2 separate regions of the Homo sapiens genome follow, and region 1 is linked to region 2. Evidence: fine-mapped expression QTL. A gene starts in region 2. The other region holds a variant in brackets. All regions are shown on one strand. Distances are from middle to middle. Region 1 holds the start of LOC105378479 (a long non-coding RNA gene). Region 2 holds the start of SMC3 (structural maintenance of chromosomes 3).

What was found.
Region 1: its variant is fine-mapped to the expression of SMC3 in whole blood (INTERVAL, PIP above 0.99).

Annotation. Positions count from the first base shown.
Region 1 is chr10:110,151,517-110,161,739 of GRCh38, reverse strand. LOC105378479 (a long non-coding RNA gene) reads left to right here and starts at 9,760. Exons shown (of 3, transcript NR_164121.1): 1 at 9,760-10,223. RefSeq lists enhancers at 8,615-9,607, 9,608-10,223. The variant G/TTG (reference allele first, on the strand shown) is at 5,244.
Region 2 is chr10:110,562,962-110,573,184 of GRCh38, reverse strand. It overlaps SMC3 (structural maintenance of chromosomes 3), which reads right to left and starts at 5,490. Exons shown (of 29, transcript NM_005445.4): 1 at 5,354-5,490; 2 at 4,172-4,247. The coding sequence starts at 5,368. It overlaps LOC105378483 (a long non-coding RNA gene), which reads left to right and starts at 5,877. Exons shown (of 2, transcript XR_946318.2): 1 at 5,877-6,152; 2 at 8,172-8,684. RefSeq lists a silencer at 4,881-5,170 and enhancers at 5,511-5,610, 5,621-5,670, 6,485-7,187.

The sequences.
Region 1 (10,223 bases), 410 kb after region 2:
TGTTTAATCCAAGGCAGCTTCACACATTGACACCGGACACAGGAAACACGAAGTGTAGTCCTGACCTGTCTTTGCATGTCAATCTCCATTTGCACCAGCACCATTTGTTGAAAAGACTCTTATTTTCACCATTGAATGGTCCTGGCATCCTGGTTGATAACTGATTGACAGTTGGGCATGGTGGTTCACGCCTATAAATCCCAGCACTTTGGGAGGCCGAGGTGGGAGGATCGCTTGAGCCCGGGAGATTGAGACCAGCCTGGACAACATAGTGAGACACTGTTTTTAAGGGAAAAAAAAAAAAGAAAATCAATTGACCACAACTGTGAGAGTTATTTCTGGTCCCTCATTTCTATTCCATTGATCTCTATGTCTATATCTTTAGACAAGTACCACACTGTCTTAATTACTGTAGCTTTGTAGTACGTTTTAAAATTGAGAAGTATGAATCTTCTATTTTTCTATTCAAAATTGTTTTGGCTATTCTGGGTTCCTTGCGCTTTCACATGCATTTTACAAGCATTCCACATTCATTTGATCAGCTTATCAACTTCTACAAAGAAGTCAGTTGGAATTTTGATAGGATTGCATTGAATCTGTTATATCAATTTTGGGAATATTGCCATCTTAGCAATATTAAGCCTTCCAATTCACAACTATGTGTTGTTGTTCCATTTATTTAGGTCTTCTTCAATTTCCTTCAACAATATTTTACAGTTTTGAATGTACACATCTTGTACTTCTGTTAAATTTATGCTTAGGTACTTTATTCCTTTTGATACTACTAGATGTGAAATAGTTTTCTAAATTCTATTTTTGAAACTTTAATTGCTAGCATATGGATATAGAATTAATTTTTATATGCAGATCTTATATTTTGAAATATTACTGAACTTGTTTATTAGCTCTAATAGCCTGGTGCTTGGGGGTAGATATCTTAGTATTTTCTATATAAAAGATTATTTGTCAACAGAGATAGTTTTACTTCTTCTTTTCCAAACTGGCCTTTTATTTCACTTTCTTGCCTAATTTCCCTGGCTAGCCCCTCCAGCACAATGTTGAATAGAACTGACAAGAAGAGGAGACACCCTTGTCTTGTTCATGATCTTAGGGGAAAGCTTTCAGTCTTTTACCATTAATTATGATGTTAGTTGTTAACTATGCAATTTTAAGTTTTCTAGTAGCCACAATTTTAAAACATAAGAGTAAATGGTAAAATTAATTTTACAAATAAATTTTATTTAACCCAATATATCAAAAATATTTCAGCATGTAATTATTATAAAATATTAACGAGATTTTTACTTTGCATACTAAGCCTTTGAAATCTGATGTGTGTTTTATACTTTCAGCATATCTCAAACTCCTGACCTCAATTGATCCACCCGCCTCAGCCTCTCAAAGTGCTGGGATTATAGGCGTGAGCCACTGTGCCTGGTCCTTTTAGCATATCTTAATTCAGAGTAGCTACATTTTTGGAGGGGGGTGGCGGTGGGGAGTAGCTACATTTTAAGTGCTATTCTCTACTGTATTGGACAGCACAGATCTAGAACATGGCTGGCTCAAAACAAGAAGAGCTAATGTTTACTGAACACTTCCCATGGGCTAGGGACTCTTCTAAACTTTTTCACATATTAACTAAATTAATCTTACAATGAGGAAGCTAAGGCATGGAGAGGCTATATTACTTGCATAAAATTGCCCAACTAGTGAAATAGCAGGGCTAGGATTCCAACCTGGGAAGTCAGACTTCAGAGCCTGAACTTTCTACTTTTAATAAATTTATGGAGATCTAATTCACATACCATACAATTCACCCATTTAAAGTATACAATCAGACAGTTTTTAGTGCATTAACAGAGTCCTGCAACCATCACCACAAACAATCTTAGAACATTTCATCATCCCAGAAAGAGAGCCCATACCCGTTAGCAGTTACTCCCCATTTCCCCCAACTTCTCAGTCCTATCTACTTCCGTCTGTATAGATTCGCCTATTCTGGGCATTTCATATAAATAGGATTATATGATATGTGGTCCTTTGTGGCTGGCTTGTTTCATTTAGCATAATGATTGCAAGGTTCCTCCCTGTTGTAGCATCTATCAGCACTTCCATTTCCAAAAAAATAGTCCATTGTATGGACAGATCAACTTTATCTCTTTGTCAACTGATGAACTGGGTTGTTTTCACGTTTTCAGTATTATGAATAATGCTGCTATGACCAAGCATGAGCAAGTTTTTGGATGGACATACGTTTTCGTCTCTCTTGGGTATACAGCTGGGAGTGGAACTGCGGGATGATAGAGGAACCTAGAACGTATGTTTTTTAAAGGAACTGCTAGACTGTTTTCCAAAGTGGCTGCACCATGTTACCTTCCCACCAGCAGTGTATGGGGGCTCCAGTTTCTCCACACCCTTGTCAACACTTGTTATTGTCTTTTTGTTTATAGCCATCCCAGTGGGTATGAACCGACCCAGAGCTTAAACTTTTAGCTGTTATTCTAGACCAGAGGCACTTAATGAACATGTGTTCAATGAATGAAAAAATAAACACATCTTGTCATTGTCCGTTGTGGGGTGTTCTGAATAATGGAACAAGATGGCTCAAAACTTGCCAACAAGAAGCTTTAGAAGAAGAGAAGGCTGTTTTCCTTTAAAATGGTGATCTGCTGGCTGGATCTGAGCCACCTGAGGGGCATTTTAAAAGTACAGATTCCCAGGCCCCATTTCCAGAGATTGATTTGGTAGGTAAGGTGGTATCTGGGAATCCGTATTTTTTTTTTTTTAAGAAAGCTTACCCAGATGATTCTGACATGCCACCGGGTTTGGGATCAGTCATCTAAAAGGGCATTTTGGAGTATAGTGCATGTATTTGCAATAAGCCAGTCATGTAAGTGTCTGCCAGAAAAACAAGTCTGTGGGAAGGACTGCAATGACACCTGGCTGAGTTTGGGAAGCTGAGGCCCTGCTCAGTGCTGCATTCCACATGGTGGGGGTAAGAAGAAAACTAACAAGTAAGACTCGCTGAGAGCTTACTTCCTTCCATCTATGTCTCTACATGCAATACCTCCTTTAATCTTTAAAACACCACCCTATGAGAAAGGTACTGTTAATGATTCCTTCTTTGCAGATGAAAAAACTCAGTCTCAGAGGAATTAAGCTGCCCAAGGTCTCACGACTCAGTCGCGTTAGGCTTGCAGCATGGTCTGTTTGACTCCTCTCTGCTGTTTTTCCTTCCTGGCCATTTCACTAGCCTTGAGGCACTCCCAGGATTCTGGAGGAGTCAGGACACAAAATGAAATACGCAGTAGCTGGAAAGGCCAACCAGGTAAAAACAAGATGCCTGGTGGGGTGTGCAGACAGGTTACGGCGGAAGTATTAGGGAGGAGGAGGGGAGGGGGCTCAAACAGAGGAAAAAGAAGTGGTTCTTTGTGGCAGGGCCTTTGGACAATTGGCAAGCCCCCAGCTGACCCAACTCCTGCTGCATCACGAGCTTCTTCTGTCCCCTATGCCTTCTGCCAGTCAGGGTGCTAATTTGCACGCTGGCCTTGCTTGCCCCAGAATGCCTTTCCACCCACCCTCTCCAGAGAGACTCAGATACAGCAAATATCCCTTAGATGCTTTCAGGTGCCATATCTCATTTAGATGCACTTTCAGATGAGGAAACTAAGGCTCAGAGACATTAAGTCACTTGCCTAAAATCCCACAGCAAATCAGTCGCAGTGCTGAGATTCAAACTTTATTTTTGACAACCTGATGTGGTTTAAATGTGTGTGCTCCTGCCCCCAATTTTTGTGTTGAAGCCTAATCCCCAATGTGATAGTATTAGGAGGTGAGGCCTTTGGGAGGTGATGTGGGTCATTAGGGCATAAGCCTCATGGTGGGATTACGACCCTTATAAAAGAGGCCAGAGAGAGAGTCCTTGCCCCTTCCACCATGTGAGGACAGAGCGAAAAGATGGCCATCTATTAGCCAGGAAATGGATCACTACCAGACACGGAATCTATTAACCAGGAAGCACCCAGGCTGGAGTGCAGTGGCACGATCTTGGCTCACTACAGCCTTGACCTCTGAGGCACAGACGATTCTCCCACCTCAGCCTCCCAAGTAGCTGGGACTACAGGCGTGCACCAACATGACTAGCTAATTTTTTGTGTTTTTTATAGAGATGGGGTTCTTGCTATGTTGCCCAGGCTGGTCTCAAACTCCTGGCTCAAGTGATTCTCCACCTCAGCCTCCCAAAGTGCTGGGATTACAGGCGTGAGCCACCGCACCCGGCCTTATTAGTGATTCTTAATTTGGGATAAATTGTGGGGCCCTTTGGATCCTGTCAAAAGCTCCCTTCCCCGTGTTGTGAGTGCCCACCCTGTGCGTGTGTGGGGCTCACTCACAGAGCATGCGCAGGGCAGTGTTCACACCCTGGTTAATAGCCTCTGCTTTATTCGTGATTTGAGGGGCCCCTCGCAGCAGCAGCGGTTTCACAAAAAACGTATAAAAATCTCTCAAAGACAAAGGCAACTTAACAAACTGGTTTATCACAGGGGTGGGCTGCTTCTTCACTGGCCCACGGGGACCCGGAAACCATCAAAAGCTGAGGCTGGGAAACCCAGCTTCCTGCTTCTGGCCTCAATTCCCCACCACTGTCACCACCATGACCACTAAAAATAAGACCAAACCCAGCCCACGCCCTCTCGACGTCGTTCTCCTCATGATTTAGCTGCCTGCTTCCTGTTGATCTTTCTTGTTTTATTTCACAGTCTCTGACTTCTGCTCACACCCCACTAGGCATCTCCCCAGTTTGAGCTGAAACAGGATTTAACCAGAAAGAAAAAGGGGTGGACGTGGGAAGCCGCAGGGGACTGAGGGTCCGTGTCCTGCCTCTCTGAATCCACACTTGCACCCTCCACCCAGTGGCTGCCCCAGGGGACTCTGGTCCAGACCCCATTCAAATGCTGCCAGGCGAGTTTGATGACTGCCTGGTCATAGGTTTTTGATAAATGTACTCGATCTCCCACCAATGGTTGTAGGGGTACGGAAGGCACAATCTCTATCCAGAATTATTCAATCACATGAGGTGAGGACTGGGCCACACAGGACACAAAATCTCTGGAAGCAGTTGATGAGAAATGCCATTTGCCCCTTCCCATTTGTCTCTTGGAAATTGAGGGTTGTAGGCTCAGTTTTCTGGTGGTGCCCCCAAATGCTTCTTCCAGCCATACTTTTTTTTTTTTTTTTTTTTTTTT[G/TTG]AGACAGAGTCTCTCTCTGTCACCCAGGCTAAAGTGCAGTGGTGTGATCATAGCTTGATGCAGCCTTGACCTCCCAGGTTCAAGTGATCCTCCTACCTCAGCCTCCCTAGCAGCTGGGACTACAGGCGTGTGCCACCACACCTGGCTAATTTTTGTATTTCTTTGGTAGAGACGGGGTTTCGCCATATTGCCCAGACTGGTCTTGAACTCCTGGGCTCGGGTGATCTGCCCGCCTCGACCTCCCAAAGTCCTGGGATTACAGGTGTGAGGCACCACGGCCAGCCTCAGCCATAATTTCAGACTCCATCCCTCCCAGGAGAGCTCCCTGGTGCCCTTCAGTAAAACTGAACTCCACTCTCTCCCGGTCTCTTGGCCTCCCTCTGCAATTTTTGTATTCATCTTCCTTGCTAGATTGTGAACCCTTGGAGGGGCAAGGATGATCTCTTAATCACTCTTTTTAGAAATTTCACAACTAATAGATGTTTACTATGTGGAAATATTAGAAAATTCAGATGGCTTCCCCACCACCTCCCCTGCAGAGAGGATAAAATGTATCCCTGATGCCCAGCTGGGACCTGTAACATTTTGGTGATCTTTCCATTTTCTTATGCAGACACACACACACACACACACACACACACACGCACGCACACACACCTAACAGAATGGAATCCAATACTCTATTTTGAGTCTATTACTCCTTTTTTTTTTTTTAAAAAAGTAAAGATTTGCTATAATTTTTTCATTTATTTATTTTTGTCTTTTTATTATTATTATACTTTAAGTTTTAGGGTACATGTGCACAATGTGCAGGTTAGTTACATATGTATACATGTGCCATGCTGGTGTGCTGCACCCATTAACTCGTCCTTTAGCGTTAGGTATATCTCCTAATGCTATCCCTCCCCCCTCCCCCCACCCCACAACAGTCCCCAGAGTGTGATGTTCCCCTTCCTGTGTCCATGTGTTCTCATTGTTCTATTACTCCTTTTTTAACTACTCGATAACCTTAAAACATTTTCATACCAACATTTTGCATCATTGAAAATCACTGCAGAGTTGTCTACCAGTTGTATCACAGTTTTCTCAATAAGCCCCTATTGTTGGACATTTAGGTTATAGTCATTTTTTTGAGACAGGATCTCACTCTGTCACCGAGGCTGGAGTGCAGTGGTGCAAACATGGCTCACTACAGCCTTGACCCCTTGGGCTCAAGCGATTCTCCCACCTCAGCCTCCCAAGTAACTGGGGCTACAGCCATATACCACCATGCCTGGCCAATTTTTTTTTTTAATTTTGTAGAAAGGAAGTCTCACTATGTTGCCCAGGCTGGTCTTTAATTCCTGGCCCAATTTTTTAAAAACAGCTTTGTTGGGATATAATTCGCATACCATAAAATTCACCATTTTAGGGTGTACAATTCAGTGGTTTTTACTGTATCTACAGAGTTCTGAAACCATTACCATTATCTGATTTTAGAACATTTTCATCACACCCAAAAGAAACCCCACAGCCATTTCTGTCACTGCATTTACCCCACACCCTGACACCAGGGGAACCGTTAATCTTCTTTATGTGTTTATGGATTTTTACTATTTTTTTTTCTTTTGAGACGGAGTCTTGCTCTGTCTCCCAGGCGGGAGGTGTAGTGGTGCGATCTCAGCTCACTGCAACCTCTGCCTCCTGGGTTCCAGCAATTCTGCCTCAGCCTCCCAAGTAGCTGGGATTACGGGCACCTGCCACCACGTCCAACTAATTTTTTTGTATATTTAGTAGAGACAGGGTTTCACCCTGTTGGCCAGGCTTGTCTCATCTCGAACTCCTGACCTCAAGTGATCCACCTGCCTCAGCCTCCCAAACTGCTGGGATAACAGGCATGAGCCATGGCACCTGGCTGATTTTTACTATTCTTGACATCTCAAGACATTCACATACAAATGAAATGTTACAATAGGTGTCTTCTTTCACTTAGCACAGTGTTTTCACGGTTCACCATGTTGTAGCATGTATCAGTACTTCATCCCTTTACATGGCTAAATAATATTCCTTGAATGCATATGCCATGTTTTGTTTATTCATTCATCAGTTGATGGACATTTGAGTTGTTTCCAGATTTTGGCTATTATGAATAATGCTGCTATGAACATTTGTGTGAAAATTTTTACGTGGACATATGTTTTCATTTCTCTTGGGTATATACTGAGTAGTAGAATTGGTAACTCTATGTTTAACTTTTTGAGGAACTGCCAAACTGTTTTTCAAATATGGTTGTACCATTTTACATTCCCATTAGCAATGTATGAAGACTCTGATTTCTCCATGTCTTTGCCAACACGTTATTGCCCACCAATTAATGTTTCATTCTGTGCAGCACCCAGACATGTTCCTTGAATACAGGAAATGCTGAATCTCTTTGTTGGACTGATCATGCACTTCCCCTAAACAGAAACTTTTTGCATCTCTGAAATTCATTTATGTACTCTGTCCCCTAAAACACCAAGCCAGATCCGGCCTCCACACTCGTAGTGGGGGAAGGTTTCATGAAGGAGGAGGCATTTGAGCTGGGAAATAGATGTAACAGGAAAACATGGATTTAGGGTCATAATTGATCTAGGATTGAATTCTGTTTAACCACTTGAGACTTGGTTTTATCACCCACTAAGTGGGGATAATAGTATCTGTCTCATGAAATAATGCAAATAAAATGCTTAGCACAGTGCCTGCCACATAGCGTGTCTCCTTCCTCCCTGGAGGATGAGAAGTTGGCTCTCAGTTGAGCAGGGTAAGGACCTGTCAAGCGGAGAAAAGAACATGTGCAATGGCCTAGTATTGTGAATGCAAGTGGCAGATGAGGCGACTGGTGGGAGGGTAGCAACCAAGCCAGGAGGCAGATAAGGCCAGGGCACCAATGAACTCTCTCCCTGCAAAGGAAGTTGGATCTCATCTCTCACAAGTCATAGGCAACTAGGCGGTGAGTGACAGACCATGATTTGCATTTTAAAGAGCTCGTTCTCCAGCAGCGGGAGGCTGGACTGAGGGTTGAGACAGGGGGTACTGGGAAGACCAGTAAGAGGGTCAATGAATTCGTTGTTTAAATGAATTCAGGTGGGAAACCAGGGGCTTAGACTAGGGCTGTGACAATGGGGATAGAAAGAGGAGCTGAACGGGAGAGAGGTTTCGGAGGTAGTGTCAATGGGCAATGGTGGCCACGTGGCCTTTGAGTTATGGTCTGACAAGCTCTCTGTACACCTGCCAGGGAGGGAGGGCAGGGTGCTCTCCAAGTCGCACCTTATTAAATCCTCACAACACCTCGGCAAGGATGCACCTGCTTTCCCAGTTACAGATCAAGAAACCGAGACTCAAAGAGAGTAAGCAACTTGCCCAAAGTCATAAAGAGTAGAGATGAAGTTTGAATCCAGGTCTGTCTGCTTTCTTTCATCTTGATGTCTCTCTGGGAAGGACTTAGCTGCACAGGAAAGCCTGGGATGGATTTGGACAGGGAGGGAGAGGAGGCAAAGTCAGTTCTTTTTCGTGGCGAGCAGCCTTGGTGTGATTGGCAGGTCAGAGCTCAGGGGATCCAGCTGAGGCCTTGGAAGAGTTCTCTAAGGAGCCAAGGCAGAAATGTGGAAGTAAGAGAATTTGTCCAACAGGAGGTTGGGATGTCTCTGATCCTCTCTCTTCCTCAGGGTGCTGGGCACAGTAAGACGCCTTGGAAACAGAAGTAGGTTGAATGGAGTGACCATGCTGGGGTGAGGGTAGTACAGGGGCCCAGGCAGAGAGCAGGCAGCTTCCTTCCTCCTTCCCCATTCAGAACCCCATCCCGTGCTGGAAGCCTGGATCCTCTGGGTTTGGGGCCACGCTGGAAGGGAGTGGAGGGTGTTCCCAGGGCTGGTGGCCACAACCAGGCTCTCCCAAGCAGCCTTGAGCCTCTCCCTGAGCTCTGCCACCAGTAGGGCTGTTACAGACCCCAGCTCCTTGCAGGAAAACTTAACATTCACACTGCGTGGAGCTGTCCCAGGGCCGCCCTCACAGGCGAGCTGAGAGGTGGTGTGGAGATGGTGCGAGATCCCTCTGAACAAGTTGGGAGCTTGGATTCCTCCCCTGGTGCCTGGGGGAGGGGACGCCAGGCCCAGACTCTCAAGCTGCCAGGCCTCACACAGAAGGGGGGACCCCTGGGTTCTCCTCTCCCCCAGGCCACACCTCTAATGGCCCCCTTCATGTGCACGCTGGCCTTTGTCCACCAGGCCCTGTTCACTTGGCTTAAAGTTAGCAGAGGCCCAGATGGGGACATGGCAGGGAGCCATCTGGTCTTCTCCCAAGACTCTCAGCCCCCCACCCTCCCAATGCCTCAGCCTGCCTTGTCCCAACGACCCCCTGCTTCTCTCTCCCAAAGTCTTTATCCGTGTTTACTATCTGTCAATTAGGCGGCCTCAATACTCTGCACATGGAAAGCCAGCCAGCCAAGCGTGGTAATCCCTCAGCCCCCTCCCCACGCCTCTTTCCCTCTGGGTTAGGGGAGAGGGCAGGAGGAGGAAGGCAGTCTGCAGTTTCCCCTCCAGTGAAAAGTGGCCGTGGCATGATCTCTGTGGTCAACATTTTCTCCCTCACTGCAGACCCCTCCCAGGCCACAGCTGGAGTGGGCAGAGGTCGGGGTGAGGAGGGACGGCAGCAAGCAGGTGCCTATGAGTGAGGGGTGGGCAGGGGCCAGAGGCGTGGGGTGAGGCTGCCTGACTGACTCAGGGCCTGGCTCGGTTCGCCTTTCCAGCTGGAAGTGTTCCAGGCCACGGGCAGGTGTGTCTACTGGCTCCTCCCCATGGGAGGGCCAGGCTCAGCACATCCCTCTGGCCACTCTGAGGCCTCCATCCATGTAGAAGGAAGAGGGAAAGAAAGAATGAAAGTGGAAGAGGAAGGAGACAGGGTGAGAGGTGGTGCAGGGGGACTGGGGACAGAGGGTGTGTCCCAGGAGGGGCCTCTCGTGCC
Region 2 (10,223 bases):
GTAAAAGGGTATCAAATCCTTTTAAGTGTGTTTAGTGAAATTTTCAGTGTTAAGACTCATAAATAACTATGTCAGTCTTCTCACTCTTGAGCCAGAAATATCCTGAGCAAATTAACCACAAAGTTACCACCTTTAATGCAAAGTAAATCTCAAAAAGATCATTCATGTCATGCCAGAAAGGATGTACTTTTTAAAAAAACGCATATGACAGACACAGGAGCCAGCTTGAAGGGGCCTTTCAGTAGCTAAAACTAGGGGTAATCTGAGCATCAAAATGGCCAAATAAATTATAAATTATTGGTGGGGGGAATAATCCATGCATCCATACCAATAATAAAAAGATAAATAAGTAGGTAAGGAAGGAGGAGAATTACCAAATGCCAAGTTGTAAATGTGAAAGGAGTGCTGGAAATGAAAAATCATTTTGTGACCGTCAGAATAAAGGCAAGGGTCATCAACAGATGGTAAATGCAGGCACAAAGTTTGAAAAGGAGCACAAGATTTACATGGTCCAAAAGCATCTGCCTATATTACTTATTAGCTGCAAGGGAAAAAATAATACCTACACAGTGGAAACATTAGACCTTGACTGGGTGATCAAAAGTAATATCATCAATAAGAGTCAGACAGACCTCATGTGCCTCCAGATGTGATATCCTGAGAGGGACACAACATCACTTATGTCTTAATTCTCAAAAATAACAATGTTATAAAAGACAAAGGAAGGCTGTGGAAATGATCCAGATTAAAGGAGACTAAAGAAGCATGACAACTATGCAATACCTGCTCCTAAATTAGATCCTGTACTGGAGGGGGAAAAATGCTATCAAGAACACTTCTGGGTCAGTCAACATAACTGGAAAATGGACAGATTACTATGTATTAAATTTACTTAAGTTGTAAATTGTACTGTGATTATGAAAGAGAACATCCCTCCTCTTAGAAAGTACACATTAAAGTCAGAGGTAAAGGACCATGGTGTAAATAACTTTAAGGAAAAAGGTGTGTAAAAAGTGGAAATGATACAGCAAGTGGGGAAAATGTTAACAACAGGTGAATCTAGGTAAAGGGTTTATGAGTAGTCTCTGAACAGTTCTTATTGGGGAAATTTTTCTGTAAATTTGAAACTATTTCTAAATAAAAGTTTAAGATGACAATTTATCATTAAATGAATAAATATTTCAAACCACAATCCATCTATAAATAACTGAAATTTTAAGAATTTCCTTTTAAGAATTACTGCTAGAGTGGAACACTATATAGCAATTTTAAAGGATGCTGAATATTTAATAAAGATATTTCAAGATTTATCCTGAAGGAGAATAACAGATTACCAGTAAGTTATATGATGAACCCATTTTTTATTTAAAAATGAACCCATTTTTATTTAAAAATGAACCCATTTTTATTTAAATATATATTAAAAAGATGTATACAAAGACTAAAAACGTACTGAGGTAAACACAGTTTATATGTGGCCCCAGATTCACCTTTCTCAACCCAGGCCTTGGCTGCCAATCAATGGAAAAGCTCAGTCTCCTAATACCTCTGGTAGATTCAAGCTACCTTGGGAGTACATTCAGGTACTCCTGAATTGTGAACATGGAAAGGAGGCTATAACTCCCTGACTACTTCCGGGTGTTAGTTCCCAGAGCACCACAATCCAAAAGCTTGGAGGCATCAATGCCAGATGTAGAAAACTTTGACCAATGAAAGACAGGTGCCTGCAAACAAATCCTTGTCAGAATCCAAATCCATTCCTCTATCATCTGACCTTTCTAAGGTATGGTGGGTCCACAAAGTCTGTGAGTTATTTAACATGACTGCAAACCACCTGTCTCTTCTTTAGAAATCTATGACCAGCTTTTCTCTTCATTCTTGCCCTCAAACTGCACCTCCCATCAAAGCCTTAGCAGCTAATCCTGTCTGTGCTGTTTTCTAGGAAACCAGGACTAATCACAAGTATAGACTGTTATTATTAAGAATGGTTATCTCTGAAGAATCATGGTGTGCAGTAAAAAACAAAGAATGGTTATCTCTGAGTAAAAGGATTATAGTTTATCTTAATTTTCTTCCTTTTAGCTTTTCCATAATGTTCTATAACATGTATTTCTTTTGTTAAAGGTTAGGGGGAAAAAAATCCCTAAAAACGTATATGTTTGATGCATATACCCAACATCAGTACAAGAGATATTTTTTAATAGTCAACATCATTCATCAATCAAAGTGGTATGCTTTCACCAGATATTTTTAAGGCAAATCTCAGTACCTAACTACTTTTGGTCTTTCTTACATTATGTCTTACAACGTGTCTGGTTTTAAAATATGTTTAATCAGTACTGTTATCTTGGGTTCATTTGTTTTAGTTAAACAAAACCATTTTCCTTTGTAACAGTGACTATTAACAAATCTAATGCTGCAATCACAGAGGTAACACAACTAACTGATAACAGCTAAAACAATGGTATTTGATGGACCTTATAGACAAAATGTAATCATTCTAGCTAGTAAGTTACAGATCATTTATAAAATCACACAAATGAAATATTAAGGTACTTATTTTAAGGTGCAAGTTAAAGAAAACAGAAATCTAATAATTCTTATTTTTCTACATTTCTAAAGATTTTCTGATTGATGAAAAAAATCAGAAAGTACTTATATGTAAGCAAAACCCCAGTACAATTAAGCCACCCTATGGCATGTCAATTCAATTAAATGACTTCAGTAGACAGAGCACAAGCAGGGAAAAAAAAAGTATGCCTTCTTTATTCCCAACTACAAGGCTGCTATTGATAAATCGAGGGCAAAAAAACCTGCCTTCAATTTTATCATTTTATACAAAATGAAGTATGATTCTCTAAAGGTCTTCTGGAAACATTAGTAATGTGAATCTCACCCACGCACCACAGACTGAATTGAACTGACACCCTGAAACAACTGACACCTTAATCCCGAATGTGATAGTATTTGGACATGGGGACCCCTGGAAGATGATTATGGTTAAATGAGGACATGAGGATGGGGCCATGTGAGCACACAGCAAGACAGCAGCTGTCCATAAGCCAGGAAGAGAGCCTCACGAGAACCTAACCATGCAGGTATCCTGATCATGGATGTCTGACCTCCAGACTATGAGAAAAAAAATATCTTGTTTAAGCCACCAGTCTATGGTATTTTGTTATGGCTGCCTTAGCAAACTAATACACCACTTAGTTTGGACTCTGTACAGCAAAACTGTGTCAACAGCAGTCTGTGTTTCTGGTGTCCAGAAGCACTCCTTTCATCTATCCTGTAAAATACTCAGCAGAGTGTCAGAAAACATTTTTGTTAGCTGTATCAGCAAAATGCACACTACAATCTGAGCAATCTATAATGACTACATATTGTTAATGGCAATCACCATTAGCTCTTTATCTTCACACTTACATAAGGTTTCTCATTTAATCTTCTCAACAGCCCTATGAGACAGGTATCATCTCCACTTTACAAATGAGAAAACTGAAGCTTCTCAGAAAGTGAAAAAGAACGTGTGCCACAACTGGGATTTTTTTTTTCGTTGTTGTTATACTAGGATACATGTGCACAACATGCAGGTTTGTTACATAGGTATACATGTGCCATGTTGGTTTGCTGCACCCATCAACTCGACATTTACATTAGGTATTTCTCCTAATGCTATCCCTCCCCCAGGCCCCCACCCCCCTATAACTGGGATTTGAACCCCATTCTGTTATGCTCCAAAGTTTATGCTCTTCCAATCTAGCTACATGGTCTGTCCTTAGAGACACTGACTGCCGGGGTGGGGGGGGAATCCTGGCATCTACTTTGTGAATAAAAATTGTCTGTCTCTGAAATAAGGCAACAGTCAGCATTTTCACTAGGATATATAACAAGAACAGAAGAGCGGAAATGCTTTAAAACACTCTTACACACACATACAAGGCTACCTAGATAAAAAATGGATAACTTATGAGTGTCTTATCCAAACATTTTAAGTTTATAAAAATAAGCAATTCATCAGTGCAATAAGACAGAAAAGTTATTTCACGCAGAAAAATATAACTTAATATTCAAAGACAATTCCTGTCTCCTTAAGCCAATATAGAAATGGACAGAATTTACATTATCTGTATAGACTATAAATATGACCGAGTAAACCAAGAACACTTACCAATCACATTATGTTTTGAACTGAAGGGATCTACAATTGTTTGATCTCTGTAACTTCGAAAACCCTGGATAATCACCTAGTAAATAAAAAACATTTTTGAGAACCCACCCCACAAAAAAAATTAACATTTTTCTCTTGCATTTCTTTCTTGTTTTTCATTTAATGCAATATAGAAAACTCGAAATTTCATATAAGAAAAATTCATTTTGGAAAGTGGTGATTAAAAATCTGCTAAAAAAAAAAAAAGGTACTTTTATCGGTAATCTTTGCCAAGGCAATGCTGCTGGGTTTTATTTTTTTTTAGGAGTTATGCTGTCAACCTGTTAAGGACCTTTCAAAATCAAAAACACTGTGTGAGCTTAACTGAACCCTAAACGCTGCAGTACAATAGCAAGTCTATAAAAGCAGGCCGACGGGCCCCAGCTCTCCTGACTCCAAGACCACCGAGTGCTGCTTTCAGTCACTCACGCCGGCCAGCCTGAAAGAACCCACGTTCCAAAGAAGGAGTGCTCAGAGCCCGACAGACCCAACAGAAAACCGTCTCCAAGGCCGTGTGCCTGGGCTCATCTTTGTGGTGGAGTCCCGCGCGGGAAGACCATTTTGACAGAAGTAAACAACCGAGGGAGGCGGCGCTCCGTATCCTGCAAGCAGGAGGGTCCCGCTCACTTCGCGGGTTAACTGGGGAGAAGAACGGCTCCCCGCAGTGACAGGTGACGACACCCCAGCCAATGCCCCCAGGGCCGCCCCCGGGCCGGGGAAGCCACCTTTCCACACATCCCAGGCACATGGGCCGTGTGAGGCCACCCCTGCAGGACCACACAGCCCTTCCCGCCCGCGGCCGCCCCGGCGGGGTGCCCCCCGCCAGCTCTGGGGCCACCCAGGAAGGCCCAGTCCCTCCCAGCGGCCCGCCCGCCGGCCCTTCCACACCTCTCGGAGATCCTGCCTCTCCCAGACAAGCGCCAGCAGGGAGGCCGGGGCTGCAAAGGAGTGCCCCAATTCTCCGCGACCCCGCAGCCGGGGCACTAGCGGGACCCGGGTCTCCCTCCTCCCCCACAGTCCCCGCCCAGCCCTGGTCCAGCCTGTGGAGACAGGGGAGAGGCTGCGGGTGGCGCCGCAACACTCCCGCCTCAAGGAGCGGCCCTTACCGGCCCATGACGGGGTGGAGGGACGCGAAGGCCTTACCTGCTTTATGTACATGATTCCGGGCCCCTGGCCTGGAAGGAGACCTGCCCCGGAGCAGCAACCGCACGGCCGCAGGGTCAGGTGAGGCGCCTACGCGACCCCTCCCCCAAAGCGCCGCTCGCTCCCCTCAGCCAAACAAAATGGCGGCGCTCGTGGGGGCGGAGTCCGCGCCTCGGACGGAACCACCTTGCAGCCTTCACAGGGCGTAGGAGGAGTCAAGTTCAGGTCTGCTCTTTCTTTTAGGCAAAACCAGTCCTCCACAGCGTTTTTTGGTGGATTTCTTTTGAATCTAGAATTCTGTAGCTAACGCTTTCCTGAGACTTAGTCAAAAGCTTCACTCGGAAAATCTATGACCGTAGGGTTGGTCCGTACCACCTCCGAGCGCGGGGCCAATGGTCGCGTCCACAAAGGGGGAAAGGTTCCGCGCCAAAGCCAAGAGGGAGACTCCGAGGGCCAGTAGCGCCGCGGGCTGTCGGCCACGTGATTCCGCGCTGTTTAAAAAAGCGGACCTCGCGCGCACTGTGCTAGCCTTGGAACACATGGAATGCTGGTGATTCTTGGAATTCTGTGTGCGGAGTCACTGCTGCCCCTTTGTTATCGCTCTCCATAGGAACGTTTACAATCTTAGCACGCCCCAAGCTGGTTACGAATTGCCCACTCGGAGGACAACCCCGAAGGGATTTGTCAATGCTCGAAAATTTGTTTTAATAATGTGATGATTAATTCCGTCGGGAACTGTTTCTGTTCTACCATCTGCTATAAATCTAGGCAGATCTGTACAATTGCAACAAAGATTTAGGTAAGGCTGAAAGCTTTTAATCCACTTTAAAAACAAAAGAAAACAGCCTGAAAGATACTAGGTGCTAGTGGCAACCCTAGGTCTGTCTGATCCTTGTCAGTCTTGGGAGAAAAACATCATTTGTTTAGAAAATGAATCTCTGGGCTGCTCTGAAATTACTTGCTGGGAAGAGAACAAAATAACTACCCAAATCATCCCCAGCCCCACCCCCGCCCGCTGCTGGAGACAATTCTGGCCCTAATTATTTCTAGATTGAACTATTTTTAGTAGCCTCCTAACTGCCTCTGCTAACCAGGGTATCTCCCTAGGAGTCCTTTATCTGGAGCCCGGATCAAATCCTATCCAGCCCTTGGTTTAAAAAAATAAATAGGCCTGGTCGAGTGGCTCAAGCGTGTAATCCCAGCACTTTGGGAGGCTGAGGGGGGAGGATCACCTGAGGTCACGAGTTCAAGACCAGCCTGGCCAGCATGGCGAAACCCCCGTCTCTACTCGAAATACAAAAATTAGCTGGGCGTCGTGGCGGGTGCCTGTAATCCCAGTTAGTCGGGAGGCTGGGGCAGGAGAATTGCTTGAATCCAGGAGGCAGAGGTTGCAGTGAGCCAAGATCGCGCCACTGCACTCCAGCCTGGGCAACAGAGCGAGACTGTCTCAAAATAAATTAAATAAATATGTAAGCATTTTCTTTTCTTTATTTCTAACTTTTTTTTTTTTTTTTGACAGGATCTTGCTCTGTCACCCAGGGTGGAGCTGGAGCATAGTGGCTCGGTCATGGTTCACTGCAGCCTCAAACTCCTGGGTTCAAGCCATCCTCCCACCTCAGCCTACAGGCTGTGGCCACCAAGCCCAGCTTTTTTTTGTTTTTGTAGAGACCAGGTCTCCTTATGTTGCCCAGGCTGGTCTCTAACTTCTGGCCTCAAGCGATCCTCCCACCTCTGCCTCCCTAAATGCTGGGATTACAGGAATGAGCCACTGCACTCAATCTAAACATTTTACTTCTAGATTTTAGTTGTATTATTTAAAGCTTAGGACAGGTATGGTGGTTCACGCCTGTAATCCCAGCACTTTGGGAGGCCCAGGTGGGTGGATCACTTGAGGTCAGGAGTTTCAGAACAGTCTGGCCAACGTGGCAGATAGGATTATCTTATACATCCTGTTTGTAATTCTAAATATGATGGAGTTTTATCATCTTCATTTTATAGACTAGGAAGTGGAGGCTCAGCATGGCAAAACTCCGTCTCTACTAAAAATACAAAAATTAGCTGGGCGTGGTGCAGACGCCTGTAATCTCAGCTACTCAGGAAGCTGAGGCAGGAGAATCACTTGAACCCAGGAGGCAGAGGTTGCAGTGAGCCGAGACTGACACTGCACTCCAGCCTGGGTGATGGAGCGAGACTCTGTCTCAAAAAAAAAAATTCTAAGCCTCCACTTCCTAGTCTATAAAATGAAGATGATAAAACTCCATCATATTTAGAATTACAAACAGGATGTATAAGATAATCCTATCTACCTAAAATTGTTTATACATATGTAGGCAAAATATGAAAAGATGGTGACTAAAACATTTGAATGGCTTTCACAGTGATGGGAGTTTTACTTTCTTCCTTAGGCTTTTCCATATTAAATGAAGCTTATACAATTAGCTTATATAATTTATATAGGCAGAAAAAAAGATCAGCGAAAAACCTAAAATAATCAAAAGGTGATTTTGAGAATGTAATGCTTTTATTTATATTTATGTATTTATTGTCTATCTCTGCACGAATATAAATCCAAGAGAGAAGGGACTTCATTTTGTTCCTGCTGTTACTTAGTAACTAATTCACAGAAAGTACTCAGTATATATTTATGAGTGAAAAATGCACAGAAGCAAAGTACTTACCACCGTGCAGGGCTTACATATGCCAGCTACTGGTGTTTAAAAGCTCCCTATGTCCCCATTCCACCCACCTTTCATCCCCCTTAGGAGCATCATTCTCTTCTGGTAAGTACGTAGGAGTCGAACATATTGATCTCCTTTAGCCAGGATAAATAGTTATTCAAACCTATGAACTATCTGGAAGCAAAGGGACATTCCTGAAAGAAATTGCCACCATAAAGCAGAATGCCAGCCGCACAGTGCCTACTAGCTCATAGCTAAACAACGGAGAACTGCAGCCTTGAAACAGTGCCCCAAAGAGTTAAAGAAGTCTGTGACTAACAAATTCTTGAGTTTGCAGGATAGCAGATGAGAAAAGAAACAACTTGCTGAAACTCCCTCCACTTGTAATATTAAAAAACTGACTGAAATTGCTTGCAATCAACATGACTAACTGGAGTTTGTGCAGAATGGTTTGCTAACATCACAGCCTGAATTTCCAGTGCATGGTTCATACAAACTCCCCGAGTTTGACATATGATCCATGTGGTGGCATGAAGAGGTAACTGTGCATGCCTCAGCACTTTCTAGACCTCCGCTTTCCTTCCGCCAATCACCTACTAATCCCAGAATCCACCCATGAATTTTTTTCTAATAAAATTACTGCTTTAAACCTAGCACAGAGAGACAGATTCGAGCTGGATTCCTGTCTTTTTAGTCAACTTGCAATAAAAAGCTTTTCTTTTCTCAAAAACCCGGTATCATAGTATTGGCTTCTAGCACATCAAGCACTGAGCCCTTTTTGCTTGGTAACATCATTTTACATCTAAACATCCCATTAACAACACATGGCATCACCTCCTCAGTGTTTTTATTTCTCTCCCCCAACCCCACCTCAGATTGATTCAGCATGATCACTTAGACACACTGGAGTGGGAGGAGGGGAAAAAGAGACACTAATCATAAGTCTCTTTAAGAAGGGAGTCTCTAATGCTCAAAGCACAGACACACAACAATCATAATCCCGTATATTTGTGTAGCTCCTCACCCAGCTTCAAAGTGCTATCATGTGTATGGTCTGTCTTAGATTTTTCTCACTGATGCTGTGAGGAGCAAGGGTACTTATTTTGCATTGGGTTGGAAACCCAAGGGTCTTATGCTGACTCCATTTGACAAATTCCATGAGTTGGGACATGTCATTTTACCATGTGACTTTCTGTAGATAAAATGGGAATATTCTCTGCCTTTCCAGGCAGCAAAGATGCAGATAGACATTTGCCCCAACAGTCAGTGGTCAGACTTTGGGAGAGCCGGGTCACATCCTGGCTCTATCACTTGCTGATGTATGACCTGGGGAAGATTAACCTCCTGAAGCCTGTTTCCTCATCTATAAGTAAAGATTTTAATGATATCTATGGAAATTTCCTTGCAGGTAAATTAGGATGATTTATTTAAAATAACTGGCACAAGACATAGTGTTAGCTATTTTTGTTATTAGTTCATAGCCAAACTTGTAGTCAGCAAATCCCTGGGAAAAGACAGCAAAGAGCTAAACTGAAAGATCAAAATGCCAGGAGAAAACTGACCAAACACTCTGGGACCACCTCACCCCCCATTATTCATTCATTCATTGAACAGATATTTACTGATTACCTCTAGCATGAATGTGTCCTAATAGCGTTGAGGAGAAAGAAACTTTTCCTCTGCCCTTTTATGTTTATGGGTGAGGTGTGGAGTGGGGGGAATCCATGAACATAAGAGGACAGGAGCTTAAGGCTTGGCGGCGATCGCCTGTAGTCCCAGCTACTCCGGAGGCTGAGGTGGGAGGACGGCTTGAACCTAGGCGTTCAAGGCTGCAGTGAATCATGACTGTGCCACTGCACTCCAGCCTGGATGACACACTAGCAAAAGAAAAAGCAGATTTTAATCACATACGTACATGTGGGAGTTCACAAAGAAATGTGACTCAAAAGGGCAGTTACAATTTGGGGCTTATATAACCCAAATGGAGTTTGAGACCAGCCTAGCCAACATGGCAAAACCCCATCTCTGCTAAAAATACAAAAATTACCCAGGCATGGTGGCCTGCAACTGTAATCCCAGCTACTAGGGAGACTGAGGCAGGAGAATTGCTTGAATCTAGGAGGCGGAGGTTGCAGTGAGTTAAGATCACACCACTGCACTTCAGCCTGGGTGACAGAGTGAGACTCCATCTC